Linked DNA regions of Homo sapiens: all the other regions are linked to region 2. Evidence: fine-mapped expression QTL. A gene starts in region 2. Each other region holds a variant in brackets. All regions are shown on one strand. Distances are between the middles of the regions. Region 1 overlaps FREM1 (FRAS1 related extracellular matrix 1). Region 2 holds the start of FREM1 (FRAS1 related extracellular matrix 1). Region 3 overlaps FREM1 (FRAS1 related extracellular matrix 1).

Region 1 (5,231 bases), 20 kb after region 2:
GCTTATGGGGTCCTAGGCCCGCATTCTATCCTGAGGTATCCCTCTTTCTGACAGAAAGATATGGAAAGACAAATTCATAGCACAAAGTACAACAGATTCACTACAGTTTAAGACTAGCCTCACGAATTCTTTTTCCCACTAATCAAAACTTTACAGAGGAGATAAACAGTAATTTTTACCATTCATTCAACCACAGAGAGAGAGAGAGAGAAAGAGAGAAGTCAAAATTCTTACCCTTTTGCTGACATGCCAGGCTTCAGGGTTTCCTTTCTCTGAGTGGCCCTACTGACCCGGCTGGCTGCACCACAGCTCTGGGGGCCAAGCCGCAACACGAAGGAAGGCCAGAGTAAAATACATGTGACAAAACACAGACATTAGCCCCTCTGCTTAGCACCTAGTATCAAACTGACAAGGCTCAAACGTGCCCCCGGCTGGACCCTGCCATTGTTAATCCAACCTCTGACCAGGAATTTCAACTCGTGGTCTCTGGGCAAGATGGTCACCCTGAGTAATAGTAAAGACGGGAAAAGGAAAGGAGAGAGAGAAAAGCATTGCCTGGGGCAGAGTGGGGAAGGTGAAGAGCCCAGGGAGGCCAGAGAAAGACCCACCCATTGCAGCGACACTGAAAAGTTCAGGCGGCAGCTTGTCAGTAGAAGAGGGATCTTTCATGGCAGTTCCATCAGCTCTCAAGTTTCCCCTTTAGGGGGAAACTTGTCCCCATGTCCCATGATCCTGTACATGCCTAATTCTGTCACCCACAGCCATCAGCAAAGAGTGCAAGGCAGATTAACCCAAAGAAATGGTGGTTAACATCCTATAGTGCCAAACCCGTTCTTAGCTGAGAGGGACTTTACTGGGAGGGGCCTCTAACCCCCTAAATCTTAGGAAAGACTCTAACTTTCATAAGTTGGGTCTCAAACCCAAGTTCGGTCAAGCGTCCTTGCCTTTTATTAAGAGGGGCCTTTAACCCACTCTATCTTAGGAGAGACTCTAACTCTCCTTAGTTGGGCTTCTAACCCAATCCCGTCATTTACTCTGGTAAATGCACCCCACCTACCCAAAGTCAGCCAATTTGTGTGTGCAAATGATTTTCCTTTGGGTTGGAAGCCTCTTCAGTATCATCCCTTTGGGGTTTGCAGAATAATGTTACTGGATCCCACCACTTACCCAGAGTTAGCCTTTGGGTCGGGGGGTTTTTTCAGTATTGTCCCTTCTGTAGTGACCATAAAGATGTTACAGGAAAGGGGTCCCAATCCAGACCCCAAGAGAGAGTTCTTAGGTACTCAGAAAGTTCTTAGGTACTCAGAAAGAGGGATACCTTAGGATAGAAAGAATTCAGGGTGAGTCCATAGAGTAAAGTGAAAGCAAGTTAATTAAGAAAGTAAAGGAATAAAAGAATGGCTACTCCATAGACAGAGCAGGCAGCAAATACCATTTTGTATTGTAAAATACCTGATTATAAATCTCCCTCCCACAAGACCTCAATCTCTTAAAGATTAAAGTTACCTCTTATTGAACTTTTTCTTGCACAGTGCCCCTGTACTTTTTCTCACAAAAACTCCTTGCTTCTGACATAACACCTACTTGTTGATTCTTTGACTATGCTACATTCTTTCTCTCCATCTTCAAACATGCCCTTACTTTTCCTATGCACCTTTCTCAATACTAATTTTTCTTTCAAATTTAACTCTTTCCCCTTCTGGGAAGCGTACCCTAGGCCCAGTTTGAGTCAAATGCTGCCTTCCTATTTAGTCCTATACCATAAAATATATCTCACCATTACTGCACTTACCACCCTTGCTGTTTTGTTTTGCTTTTCTGAGGCAGGGTCTTGCTGTGTTGCCCAGACTGGCCTTGAGCTCCCTGGCTCAAGCAATCCTCCTGCCTCAGCCTCCCCAGTTGCTAGGACTACAGACATGTTCCCCTGTGCTTGGCATTACTGCCTGTTTTGAATCATTAGTTTATGTTTGTCTTTCTGAATTACACTGTACACTCTCTAAGGGCAAGAATTTTTTTTTGTCATTTTTGTCTTCACAATCCCAGCACTTAACGTAGCACTTGTCCCTAAGTGAGTACTCAGCAATTGTTTGTACAATGAATGAACAGATGATATGTCATACTCAAAAAGCCAAGATACATTCTGAAAATTGAATTGGTCTCAAAGATGAATTCCTGGACATGATTTAATACGAATTTAAACAGAATCTCACTTTTACACAGTTTGGTGTTGTTCTGTTGTAAATTAAGAAATGAAGAATTCACTCAAGAAGAGGAAAATTAATTTCAGTTGGCGTGACACTGGTGGGGAAGGCCCTAGGTGTGAGTTTTGGTACATGCCCACGGTAGGTCCCTGATGAAGAATGGGGCACACCATGATGAATGTGAGTGTTTTTCACTCTGCTTAAGTTATTCAATTAAAGCAACCTGTTGTGAAAATTGTATGATACAACGCTCTGGCTGAAAGCAACATGATTTTAAGTTATGGCCATTTCCTAACTAATCTTCAGGGAAATGTTTTTGATGGTTTAAGAGGCTTTGATAGTCATTAAAAACAGAACTGTAAGTTGAGGGCACACATTTTTTCCCTCTGCAATCAGTTTTCTCTACCTTTGAAGGTAGTTTTAGTAGAAGGCCTCTGTAGAAACAGGCAGACGTCTGGTTTCCAAGGGATATCCTGGAATTTGAATTTCTGAAGTAGACTTATTAGGTATAGATTTATCGGGCATGGCCAGAAATGTTTTAGATACCCTCTGGCCATTCTATATTTTAGTCATTTTAAGTCTCTTGAATGATTTCTCAAAGAACCCGTTTTGTTTTGTTTTGTTTTAATGAAAAAGAACAAAAAACGTTTTCCATAAGTTTGCAGACTTTGGGCTTAAAAAGGCTCCTTTCTGCAAGACTTCTTAGAATCTTTAATATGCTCATATTATATTGTGAATTTTTAGAAGGTGATTTTAGCGTTCTGTGCTTCAAATGTATTTGGGTATGGTGAACTTTTTTTGTGGCAAGCTTTTAACGTCTCCAAAATATTCATTTTCACAAGCACAGTTTGCAAAACATGGCAGGGTAGAGTTTGAGCTATTGGAAATCTAAGGAAGGAAACCTAATGA[A/G]TTTGTGTTGTAGGCAAAGGTATGTCTGTCTTTGCAGCCTTGGTCATCATGGGGTTCAGAACATGGTATCCCCAAATAGGGTGCCTTGGCACATTGAATATTTTGAACTGGAGGAATTTGAGAAGTGGCATGTGGTGGAAAGACTCTCTGACCTTCTCCCCTGAACAGCAGGTTACAGTACCCTTGTGTGAGAGAAGTGCCCTCCTGATACCCAGAGGAAAGGAGTATCCTTAGCTCCAAGAATGGAGGGACACAATGGGGAATCTGCACAGGCAGGTCTTGCTCACTTTCCCCCAGTTTACCACCCTCAGCTCACACATCTTTGTCCTAATACATTTTCCCATAACTTTCCACTCTTCATCAAGCTTAGGATAAAAATGCTCACGCTTAATGTTTCTTTCTGTCTTCATTTTTTTAATGAAGGCTCCCACGTCACATGGCACTTATATTCAATAAATTTTATGTTTTCCCTTTGTTAATTTGTCTCTTTTCAGTCTAATTTACAAGGCCCCGGACAACCTAAGAGCATAGAAGGAAAGGAGTTTTCCCTTCCCTCTACTCATGACAGTATAGCCTGAGGGAGGGCTCCCTCTCCAGAGTTCTGAGTCTGGCAGCTTCCTGAAGATCTGGGAAGGAAATGCTGAAAGGAATATTTCTGGAATAAGCATCTGTGATTTAAGGAAGCCACCTGGGATAATGGACATAGCACTAGTCTAGTGTCAGAACTGAGATTCCCATCCAGCCTTGGTTTCCAGGTAGCTGTGTAGTCTTGGTAGGCATTTAACGACCATGGGTCTTCCTCTCTTATGTAAATGAAAGAATTCCTAGAAGAGAACACACAAATGGCTAAGGGACATTAAGATAAAAGGGAAAAAAACTAAACCTTCCACATAAACAAAGGAAGTGCAAATTAAAACAGTGTCAGATACATTTCACTTGGGAGATGAATAAAGATTAAAGGGGCAATGTTGAATGTGAGGAAGGCTGGTGAGGGTGGAAATTGGTACCAGCTTTCCAGAAAGCATGCATATCAAGAGCCTCAGAGTAAGTTCTCACCCTTCAGCTTTACAATTCCACATCTGGAAATCAATCAAAAGACATAAACTAGAGAAACAGACCGATTTATACTTAAGGATTTTTTTATCACAATCTTTGACATAGTAACTACTTCAATGTAGCAGTGAGATGATTATAGCAACTATAGTACACCCATCTAGTGGCTATAATGCACAAATTAAAAGCACAATTGCAAGGAATGTTTAGTAATACAGAAAATGCTTACAATAGAACATTATGTTAATAAAAAGGGATACTACACAACTCTTTGGGGGTATTGAAAAGGATATTTTTTTTCTATATGTTTCTGTGTTTTTGTCCTTTAATTAATGAGCATGCCTTTCTTTCATATTTTAAAAAAAGTTATTTTCAGAAAAAGCAAATACATTGATAAATGAACTGAAGAATATGGCCTCGATGATTTCTAAAGTTTCTCCTAAAATCATACATTGTGTGATGTAGGTTATGGATTAGAAAACATTGTAGAGAAGAGGAAGCAGAATGTTATAGACAGAGTCAACACACATTTTATTGATTTAAATGTGAGTCAACACACATTTAATTGATTTAAAATAGAATTATGAAGTGGCCTATTTGACTTGAGACCTTTAACCTGGGCTTGTAGTGTAAGCAGTTGGAACATGAAGATGCTGGTAGACAGGGTATCTCTCTTAATTATTTGCTCTTAAAGCAGCAGCTACTTCCTTTAGAGAACATTGTTTCTAGTGAAACATTAACTTCTGGAATAGTATCTATTGCTGTCTGGAACCATAAAGGAAGTTGTTAAATTTCCTGCATACTATAGGAATAAAACTTTAGGGCTAGTGAAGTGATTGCAAAGAGTATAAGGTTTTGGTGTGATGTGAAGCAGTGTATATATAACAGTAGTGGTTAAGGGCAAGGGTTTTGGAGTTGGACAAAACCAGGCTCTAATTGCGATGACAAGGTCAAGCTGATGACATTGGGCAAGTTACTTAACCTCTTTATGTCTCATTTTCCAAATCTATAAAATCATTATCTACCTCCTAAAACCATAGTAGGGATTAAACAATATAATATATGTAA
Region 2 (5,231 bases):
AACCTTTCTATTCCTGGACTCATCCTCTTCTCTTGCCATAGTATTGCTTCCCATGGCCATCTAGTGTTAGAGACTCAGTGGAAAACTATCTTTACGTTGCAATAGATAACACTTCTGTCTGCTGCCATCGTCAAAATTTAATAGGCACATTCCTAATTTTTTATATGAATTGTTGGTGAAGGCATTGGCTATGCCTTTCAGAGAATGCTACATTCTACAGCAATTCAACAAAAATCATTCATATTTACAATCCAAAATGATATGCCAATCTCCAACACACATTTGATATTTTTCATTATCACTCCAACTAGGGCTAGAAGTAAAATGATTTCTTTAAAAATGAATTTTGTGCCAGCACTAAGTTCAGCAGCACATGCTTTTAGGGGAAGAATTCTTTGTTGTTTCTTTGACTAGTTCTTTTTAAATTCCCTAGCTTGGCATTTCAATCTGTTCAAACAGTATTTTATTGATTGAAGTTGATAATTGTATTATTTCCAGGCCCTTATTCATTTGTGGCAGATAGAAGGAATGACATTTGTATAAACAGGTACTTCAGATTTCAGGACATTTTGACTGATCTAACTCTTAACTGCCTATTTCAGAATATGTTCAGCACAGTTAGGCCAAGCTTCATGTATATAATTAACTTTGGAAAGATTATATCTCCTGCGGACTTTTTGAAATACTTTACAATCTAAGTTTGTTATTTTTTGCTTAGCATGCTTAAGTTATTTTTCCCATAGAAGTGATATAAAGACATTTATCTCTGTTTCTAGACTAATCTGTAAACCTTATTTAGCTCTTAATCTATCTATAAACTTTATAATCTATCTATAAACTAATCTATAAACCTTATTAGTTTCTAGACTAATCTATAAACCTTATTTAGATGTTAGAATAAGCATGTTGATGCAACCGTTTGTACATAGTATACAATTCCTTTGTCAAATGGAATCCGAGTCTCAACTAACAGCTTCTAAAACCATCTTCATTTCTTTGCAGGTAAGATATTCACAACCTGGGCAATTTTGAAAATCAGTTGGGGAATAAAATTGTCTATTATGCTGTGTTTCTTAACTGTCATTATTAAGGCTTTATTTCTTGCCTTTTCAGGATTAATATATGACTCACACATTGTCACTATATTTATTTAATAATAACTGTGTTTAGTAAATAATATCTGTTCACTTATAAAGAGCTTAGTGATTCTTAACTTTCACCTACTTATTCTCAGAGCAAATAAAATGAATCAAGAAATTCTTGAAGATTTGAAATCTCCGATGACTTTGAGTAAGTGTATATGCACCATTCATTGCTAAAGTAACCACAAAGCATGTTTTTAAAATACATAATTTTTTTCTCCCTTCTTATGCATTCTTTTCTTCTTTACATTTTTCTCTTTTCTTTCTTCCTTCCTCATGTAATTTTCTTCTCCTTTTTCATTTTCCTCTCTCTTTTCCTTATGGCTTCCAAAGAAAGGCATATGGTGTTGTGACCTTGTTACGGGAAACCACATCTAGGTTGAATTGGATTCACAGTGTTCTATATTTTTGGCAAAGGTTTAGGATAGCCAGACATGTCTTAATATAAACAGTTCCCCCAAAGTGAGTTAATACTTCAAATTCTCTCTTTATGGTTAATTTAGAAGGCCAGATGGTAGGCCATTATCTTTTTTTTTCCTGGTGGGAATAAAATACAGGAAAGCATTTTATTAAACAGTTGTTAAGGATTAAGACTTTCACAGACCACTGAATACTGACAAGTTAACTATGTGAATCTCTGTTGAGAGGACAGTTCTTGGCCAGTGATATATCTGCATTATTGGGATCACGCACTATATGCAAATGGATCAGATTAATGGGATTTTTATGGGTTTTCGAAAAGAGCCAGACACACAAAAAGCCTTACAAATGGAAGAACTAAGGTGGTACTTAAAAACAGCACCTTAGGATCTAGTTCCATCCTATCTTTTCCCTTAAATGCCATGACAAAAGTTAAAACGGGCCCTGTCCCTTCTGAATGCTGGGCTTCTCATCTAAATTTAAATAAAAACCTTTGAAGATGGGAATGTGTTGGAAGAAAAGAAGGGCAGAAAAAAAGTGTGTTGGAAGAGTCTGTGTGAGTATGTACATGTGTGGGTGTGGGCATGTGCGGCCTGTGCGTATGTGTGTGCCCCCGTGTGTGTGTGGAGCATGCGTGAGAATGCATGCACATGTGTGGGGTGGGTCACTATGTGTGCATGCATGTGAAGGCATTTGCCTGTGTATGTGTCTGTGTGTGGTGATTGTGTGTCTATCGTGTTTGTATGTGTGCCTGTGTGTGTACCTCTGTGAGTGGGTGTGTCTGTATGTGACTGTGTGCCCATTTGTGAATGTGTGTGTGCCTGTGTCTGAGTGTGTGTGTGCCTGTGTGCTGCAGGCGGGAGAGGCTGCTCTGGCTCGGCGAGTGGCGGAGCAGTTAGTACAAAACTAGTAGTGAGAAAGGAAGCTGGGAAGAGACTGGGAAGAGGCAACCGACCTCATTAACAAAAGCTCAGTTTTGTCCCTGCGGACCCAACCAGCAGAAGGCACGGGGCTAGCGGTGGCTGTCCGCCAGGGAGGTCGGGCTCTGTGTAAACAGTAGAAGGCATCTTTATCATGCCCTTCTCACAGGGAGTCCTGAGGCTTGGCGCTCAGGAAGTTTGCAAAGCTGCAGCAGCTGCCTTGGAGAAGACCAGCAAAGAAAGTGGAGTGTGTATGTGAACTTCAATTCTGTATTTTCTGTGAGGTGGGTTAATGGATTTTTAGTAAAAAGAAATCTCAAACACAGCTGACCTGAAAGACTGGAATTTCAGCTCTCTTCCTTCCCGGGGTTCTTTTTCCTCCCCCTTCCTCTCAAAGCCCTTTAAACCAGATTGCTGTGTCAGTGACTCTTATCCTGCCCGCCAGTTCCAAGGGTTTCTAACTTTTTGTCTTGGAAAGGAAAACCACTACCTGTAAGTATCTGTTTTATGTGTTTCTTTTCATTGTGACTGTGAATGTTCTGTTAGCAGAATGCCCCAGAGATTGTTTGTGTGATATCATTAATGCCAAGTAACAATGCAAAGCATCTGCAAGAGTAGGCTTGCAAAAGTTTAACTCTCCTGTTAACTCAGAAGATGGCAACTTGCAGTGTTAACAAACCAAATGCCAAAACTGAGATTCTTTTTATTACGTGACACAAATTTCTAACTCTTCTCAGTCCATCCGTGCTGGCACTTGCCAATGAAATAACCATTTTTTAACTGTGTAATTGTTTCCTCTGAAATTAGAATGTTTCTTCTCAGCTAAATGAAATGGCAAAGGGAAAAGACACAAAAATGAACAGAACAGATAATATCCTCATGGTACAAACATAGAGAAATTTGGATGAGATAATGTCTGGATACCTTTGCTTAAGTTTAGTTATATTTGGAGACATATTTTCAAAAACATGATTTCTGTTTCATTGTGGGGAAGAGAGATAGTGCTGGGGAGGCAAAGAAATGGCCTTGTTCTGAAGTTTTTGGACTGATTTTTAGGCTCTCTCTGCTCAGTACTGAGATTTGGTCCAGAGACTTTGGTGCTGTTGTAAAGAGTTTCTTTTCATTTTATTTTGAAATCCAGGAAACAATTTTTGGCTTATGGAAATTGTTTATTGTTTTTAAGGTATTTAATTTTAGTTTCTGATTTTTTTTTAAACTATTGCACCCAGTCTTGTTGCTTGGTGTGCATTACAAAGCTTAAAAAGAGCATTTCTGGGAGCCAATTGGTGTTTATAGCCTGGGAATCTTACTGGAGAGATTAACCTCTGTGGTGCTGCTTCACAGAACAGAGCTAGTGATTCGAATGCTCTTCAGGTTTCTGCTCTGGAAAACTGACACCCGCTGTTCCTGACTCTAGGTAAAGCTTGAAGAGCTGTGCCTCAGCCCCCTGCTTACATTTGATAAAGGTGCCTTCAGTGCAGCTCTAGGAAACTTTGCTGTTTCTCTCCATCAGGCATTCTCAAAACTGACTGTGTGTAAGAACCCCCATTTGCTTGGTGAAAGGCAGGTTCTCAGTTCCCAGGCCCAAAGGATTTTAGACCTGGAGTGGTGCCAGGAATCTTCCCAGGTGATTCTGAAGCAGGTGGGTCACACTTGGGTAAACATTGCTCTACATTGTCCTTGACATGAAATTCTTGTCATGTACTTGGTTAATATTAAACCTTATATCTAAATAAGAAACCTGAGTTTGAGCTGTTGTTGAGCATAACTTAATGTGCAACATGGTTTTGCATGCTTGGCTGGCAAACCAGGGCTTTTTAATCAGTTTTCCACCAACCTCATCTTTTTTTTTTCTTGCTTCCCTTTTCATCTCTGCCTTTTCATTCCCACGAGGGAAAAAAGGAGTTGGGCAAAGGGACCTGACTACCATGTTCCCTGCTTTCACATGTTGGGCTATATGGCCTGATCTGCCCCCGCATGGCTAAGCAATGTTTGTTTTGGAAACTTTAAACCCAGGACTGTTCTTAATTCTTTCCCAGCCTCCTGGGGCTGCTGGGCTGTAGGGGTTGGGCGAGGCTGAGTTTGGGTAAACTGAGCTTGATTTCATGGAATGGTTCAGGAGCCTCATTCCTAGAAAATGATTTTTGGATTGGACCATCCCACAGGGATGAGAAGAAACAGAAAATGATTCTTCCATGGTGTTAAAATTCTCATTTCACAATATGTGAAAGTCAGAGCTCAGCTTCCATCCCCATCCTTGCATTTTCTGGCGTTTAATATTTATATTAAAAAGAAAACTGGACATGGCCATCAGAGCCCCTTGCTTTCTTTTCTTTCCTCATTCCAAACATTTAGGTGCACCTGCTACATGCCAGGCTCTGTGATAGTTTTTAAGGATTTCAGAATGCCCACTGGGGATGGCATGCACAGGCAGGGTCCTTGTCCTCATGGTGTTTCAAATCTTAGTTGTTGCTAACCAGCCTTGGAAGAGCCATCTAACCCCTCAAAGCTTCACTTCCTCATCAGTAAAATAAGTTGAATTAAATGAGTTTTGGTATCTTCCTAGCTCTGATATTCTGACATTGATGGATATGACTCAGTCTTCTAAACACAGATATGGGCTATGAGAGCTTTTCAGCATTTACTCTGAGAATAGGCCTAAAGATTTCGCTAATTGCTTTTCTTCAAAAATTTTCAGATGTATTTTTTTCTCTCACAAAGCACCATGACCACAGGAATATTGAGTTAG
Region 3 (5,231 bases), 26 kb after region 2:
AGTGGGGTTTCACCATATTGCCCAGGCTGGTCTTGACCTCCTGGGCTCAAGTCATCCACCTTCCTTGGCCTCCCAAAATGTTGGGATTAAAGGAGTGAGCCACCGCCCCTGTACATTCTATTGATAACTTCTAAGTTTAGCTTCTGACTAGCATTTTAAAGATTATAATGTGGAGTAGAAGTCAGAAAATCTTCATTGGCTTTCTTCACCATCTTGTTGAGGATTTCAAAAATCTCTTCCGTTTGGGTGGGTTCATCCTGAAGTGGCTATTTTCAGTTAAAATGCCATTTCTCTGTTAGCGTATTTTATTTCTTTTTCCTTTTTTTTTTTTTTTTTTTTTTTTGAGTCGGAGTCTCACTCTGTCACCAGGCTGGAGTGCAGTGGCACGATCTCGGCTTACTGCAACCTCCGCCTCCAGGGTTCAAGCGATTCTCCTGCCTCAGCCTCCCGAGTAGCTGGGATTTACAGGCGTGTGCCATCATGCCCAATTCATTTTTGTATTTTTAGTAGAGACAGGGTTTCACCATGTTGGCCAGAATGGTCTCAATCTCTTGACCTCGTGATCCGCCCACCTTGGTCTCCCAAAGTGCTGGGATTACAGGCGTGAGCCACCGCACACAGCAGTTTATTTCTTAAATGACTTTAGGGTACTTGTAAGACCTAAAGTTGTGAAAAAGTTGTTCTCATAGAAGTAGAGAGTAGAAGGTGGTTACCAGGGGCTGGGGAGGAGGGAGGACTGGGGAGGTGCTGATCAAAGGATACAAAATTTCAGTTAGTCCAAAGGAAGGAGATGTATTGTACAACATGACTACTATAGTTAACAGCATTGTATTGTATAGTTGAAAATTGCTAAGAGAGTAGATTTTAAATGTTCTCCTCATAAAAAGAAGATATGTAAGGTAATAGATATGTTAGTTATTTGATTTAGCTATTTCACATTGTATATGTATATCAAAACATCATGACACAACAGTGTATGTATATATTGCAAAACAGCTAAATTAAGTCATTAACCTGGTGGCTCACACCTGTAATCCCAGAACTTTGGGAGGCTAAGATGGAAGAATAGCTTGAGACCAGGAGTTCAAGACCAGCCTGGGCAACATTGTGAGACTCCCATCCCTATGAAAATTAAAAAACAATTAGCCAGATGTGGTGGTGCATGCCTGTAGTCCCAGGTACCTGGGAGGCTGGAGCTGAGGCTTGCTTGAGCCCAGGAATTGGAGGCTGCAGTCAGCTATCATCGCACCACTGCATGCTAGCCTGGGCGACAGGGTGAAACCCCTGTCTCTAAAACAAACAAAAATCATGTTGTACATCATAAATATACACAATTTTATTTTTCAATTAAAAATAAGTAAAAACGAACAATAAATAATTGTGTGAGTCAAGGGGTAATAACTGCAAGCCTGGGGAAGACAAAAATGTTCCATTGCTTATGTCATCTTTAGTCAAATGGTGATAACTACCTAGATCACTAATGAGAAGAGTTTTGGGCCACATATGAATTCTGCAAAAAGCAAAGAAAATAAAAAGCAATGATGGGGAGGCCGAGGCGGGTGGATCACGAGCTCAGGAGATCGAGACCATTCTGGCTAACACGGTGAAACCCCATCTCTAGTAAAAATACAAAAAATTAGCCGGGCGCGGTGGCGGGCAGCTGTAGTCCCAGCCACTCGGGGGGCTGAGGCAGGAGAATGGCGTGAACCCGGGAGGCGGAGCTTGCAGTGAGCCGAGATCGCACCACTGCACTCCAGCCTGGGCGACAGAGCGAGACTCCGTCTCAAAAAAAAAAAAAAAAAAAAAAAAAAAGCTATGATGAATTATTGATATCTTGATAACTATGCTGGGCATAGGAGGGGGAAGGCACTTGCCTTGTGTTGGGTAGCTACCATTGCAAAATTCCAGAGAGGAAGAATAGTAAATATTATTTTCATCAAGGCACGTCATTACCATTGACCGTTAAGAATTTCCATTGCATTGAGAGCTGTACAGCTGAGATCCATTTTTTTTCTTGTTGTGCACAGATTATCTCAAATTAGTGACAGGAGTATCATGTTTATATCAACATGAAGAATACATGCTCATATAGTTAAGCTGAATGTGTAATTATGAAATAAATACTAGCTCACATTTCCCCTCCACCAATTATGTTACTAAATTATTTTCTTCTGTTCAAAAAATTTCCCAAAAAGTTTGGTTGAAGAAATCTTTATGAATTTTCATAAGAATTCAAAACAGCGTGTTTTTTCACATTTCAGAAAGAATTTTCACACAGCTTTATTGGCGTTTATTGGCTTATACAGATATACTGTACTTAGAATACATGATTACCATGTAAAGAAAAAAGGCAATGGTGGGAAAATGGTCAGGGAGAGCAGAACTGATTTGCAGTCATGTCAGGAGGATTTCGAAATGTTAAGAAACAGCTGAGCCACACAAGCAAGCCAAGACAGGATTTGTTTCTTGTTTTTTTTCTTTTTTTCTTTTTTCTTTTTTGAGA[T/C]GGAGTCTCGCTCTGTCGCCCAGGCTGGAGTGCAGTGGCGCGATCTTGGCTCACTGCAACCTCCGCCTCCCAAGTTCAAGAGATTCTCCTGCCTCAGCCTCCCAAGTAGCTGGGAATATGGGCACCCACCACCACGCCCGGCTGATTTTTGTATTTTTAGTAGAGGCAGGGTTTCGCCGTGTTAGTCAGGCTGGGCTCGAACTCCTGACCTCAGGTGATCCGCCTGCCTGGGCCTCCCAAAGCGCCAGGATTTGTTTCAAGGATTTGAATCAAGTCCGAGGTGGCTAAAAGTCAGTTTACAAGCTCCCTTGGGGAATATGGCCAGGTGCCCTTTCTACTTCCACTTCTAGCTGCCCCCAATAATTCTGCCGACCCTGAGGGTGCCCATACTAGCAATCAGAGCAAGCTGTGGACAGATGGATTCTGAGGCTCTGACTTAGCCCTATGCTGGGACTAAGAAAATAAAATTCTCAAGATGTGCTAGGCTTCCCATTAGAGTGTTGTTTTTCATGTAGAAGTTGGCTGTCACTGGACATAGTAATTTTGTGTCAGAGACAAGACAGTTATTACCGTCTCATTTTGAGGTGTTAAAAGACCCATCATCACTGTGAAATCTTGTTTGCTTCAGAATTTTGCTTTGCTTTGCTGTTGTTCTGTTTTTCTTCTGGCCCTTTCTCGGTCTGCTCGTCTGAATTCTTTTCTCTTTCCCCTCCCATGCCACCTTCTTGAAGCCAAAAATAAGAGCAGTATTTTCCATGGAATGTCCACATACTTGGTGTTTCCCAACACCAAGAGAAAAATACAAGAGCAAAATTAGAATGCAAATAAAACCAAACAAAGCATACCCTTTTTGATCTTTATTGCTTCTAATTCTGCAGCCTTCAGTCTAGGCTCAGTTGATTGAAGGATGAGTTTTGTTTGATTTTGAATTTGGAAATTGTTACTCTTGTACTTTTCCCCCCTCCTAACTGTGTTGCTTCAGGTTGTTTTTGAAATATCAAAATTTAGTTTTTTAATATGTATTCTGTTGTAAGACTATGAGAAAGAAAAAATTAGAATGTAAATAAAACAGACTCTATTTGACATTTATTGAACCTAATTTTGCCACCTTGCCACCTTCATCCAGGCCCAATTCCTTCTACTCTGTTTTTCCTGAGAAAGCTTTACTTTCTTGTCTCTTTGATATATTTTGTAATAATAATGTTAACATTTGTATGGGGGTTTGTAATTAAGAAAATATTTCCACATAGATTATTGGTCTGACAGGGGAACTTTGGAGGCAAGATGGGTGATTCCTTTTTTTTTTTTTTTTGAGATGGAGTCTCGCTCTGCTGCCCTGGCTGGAGTGCAGTGGCATGATCTCAGCTCATTGCAACCTCTGCCTCCCAGGTTCAGGCGATTCTCCTGCTTCAGCCTCCCATTTTTGAAAGAGGAAAGTATGTTCATAAAAATCAGGATTAGAATCCATGGCCAGGTGCAGTGGTTCACACCTGTAATCCCAGCACTTTGGGAGCTGAGGCGGGCAGATCACTTGAGGTCAGGAGTTTGAGACCAGCCTGGCCAACATGGTGAAACCCCATCTCTACTAAAAATAATACAAAAATTAGCCAGGCGTAGTGGCGGGCACCTGTAATCCCAGCTGCTAGGGAGGCTGAGGCAGGAGAATTGCTTGAACCCAGGAGGTTGCAGTAAGCCAAGGCTGTGCTACTGCACTGCAGCCTGGGTGACAGAACAAGAATCCATCTCAAAAAAAAAAAAAAGATAAGAAGAAAATTAAAAAAATAATAATCGGGATTAGAATCCAGATATTCAAAATTCAAGTCTATTCTTTCAACAGCATTGTGGTGCAGGGAGCCATAAGAATAGATATCTCCTCTCTTCTCTTGTCTCTTCCTGGCAGATAAACATTAGGATCTTGGACTTTGACCTTATCTCTCAGTTAAGGGTTTACTATGATATAATTAGAGAATGAACTATTGTCCCATATGCTGTTAGGTAGGAAGTTAAATCTTTAGCTGATTAGTGACTAAACAAAATTAATACAAAAACTTGAAGAAGAAGTGATTATTAAAGGTATAGTTAAGTTCAGTCATGAGTCACACACACACACACAAAATAATAACAGTGAGTTAAATAGGAAAGAAGTTTACATTCTCTCCTGTGTAAAATTCTGGATGAATGGACTGGTATGGTGGTTCTGCTTTGCAAATGGCCCAGAGACCCAGGGTCCTTCTAGCTCACAGCTCCACCAACCTATGCCATAGCCTCATTTTTTCATGTGCAAGGCAGCACCTTCCATCTTGGCAACAAGATGGAGGGAAGCATAAAGAAAAAGGGAGAAGAGGCACACCGTAACTACCTCTTAAAGGAGGTTTCTCAGAGACACCATGTGACTGCTCTTCTTCAATTCCATTGGCCAGAATCTGATCACATAGCCGCAGATAGCTACAAGAGAGACTGTGAAATATAGTCTTTGTTCTGGGTGACTATATACCTAGTTAAAATTTTTATTTCTATGGAGGAAGGTGAGGTTGGATGTTGTGGGACAAATAGACATTCCTGTCAGAGATAGATATTGGAAGAGAGTTACTAAGTTATCATAAGTGAAACGAAGGAAACATTTGCTATATTATTTTAACAATCTATCTGAGAGGAGCTTATTTGGCATTCTAAATTGTTTACATGAAATAGAAGATTTTGATCAAGTTGTTCCATTTTGGTCCACATT

Evidence for each region. PIP is the estimated chance that this variant, and not a neighbour inherited with it, causes the effect. A credible set is the group of variants that fine-mapping cannot tell apart.
Region 1: its variant is the best candidate, but not a certain one, in a credible set for the expression of FREM1 in anterior cingulate cortex (GTEx, PIP 0.54).
Region 3: its variant is the best candidate, but not a certain one, in a credible set for the expression of FREM1 in lung (GTEx, PIP 0.61).

The regions. Positions count from the first base shown.
Region 1 is chr9:14,888,150-14,893,380 of GRCh38, reverse strand. All of the region lies in intron 1 of FREM1 (FRAS1 related extracellular matrix 1), which reads left to right. Among named protein-coding and RNA genes, the nearest start is that of FREM1, 20 kb to the left of the region's middle. The variant A/G (reference allele first, on the strand shown) is at 3,111.
Region 2 is chr9:14,907,657-14,912,887 of GRCh38, reverse strand. FREM1 (FRAS1 related extracellular matrix 1) reads left to right here and starts at 2,460. Exons shown (of 37, transcript NM_001379081.2): 1 at 2,460-2,974. RefSeq lists enhancers at 3,695-4,196, 5,146-5,231.
Region 3 is chr9:14,881,497-14,886,727 of GRCh38, reverse strand. All of the region lies in intron 1 of FREM1 (FRAS1 related extracellular matrix 1), which reads left to right. Among named protein-coding and RNA genes, the nearest start is that of FREM1, 26 kb to the left of the region's middle. The variant T/C (reference allele first, on the strand shown) is at 2,504.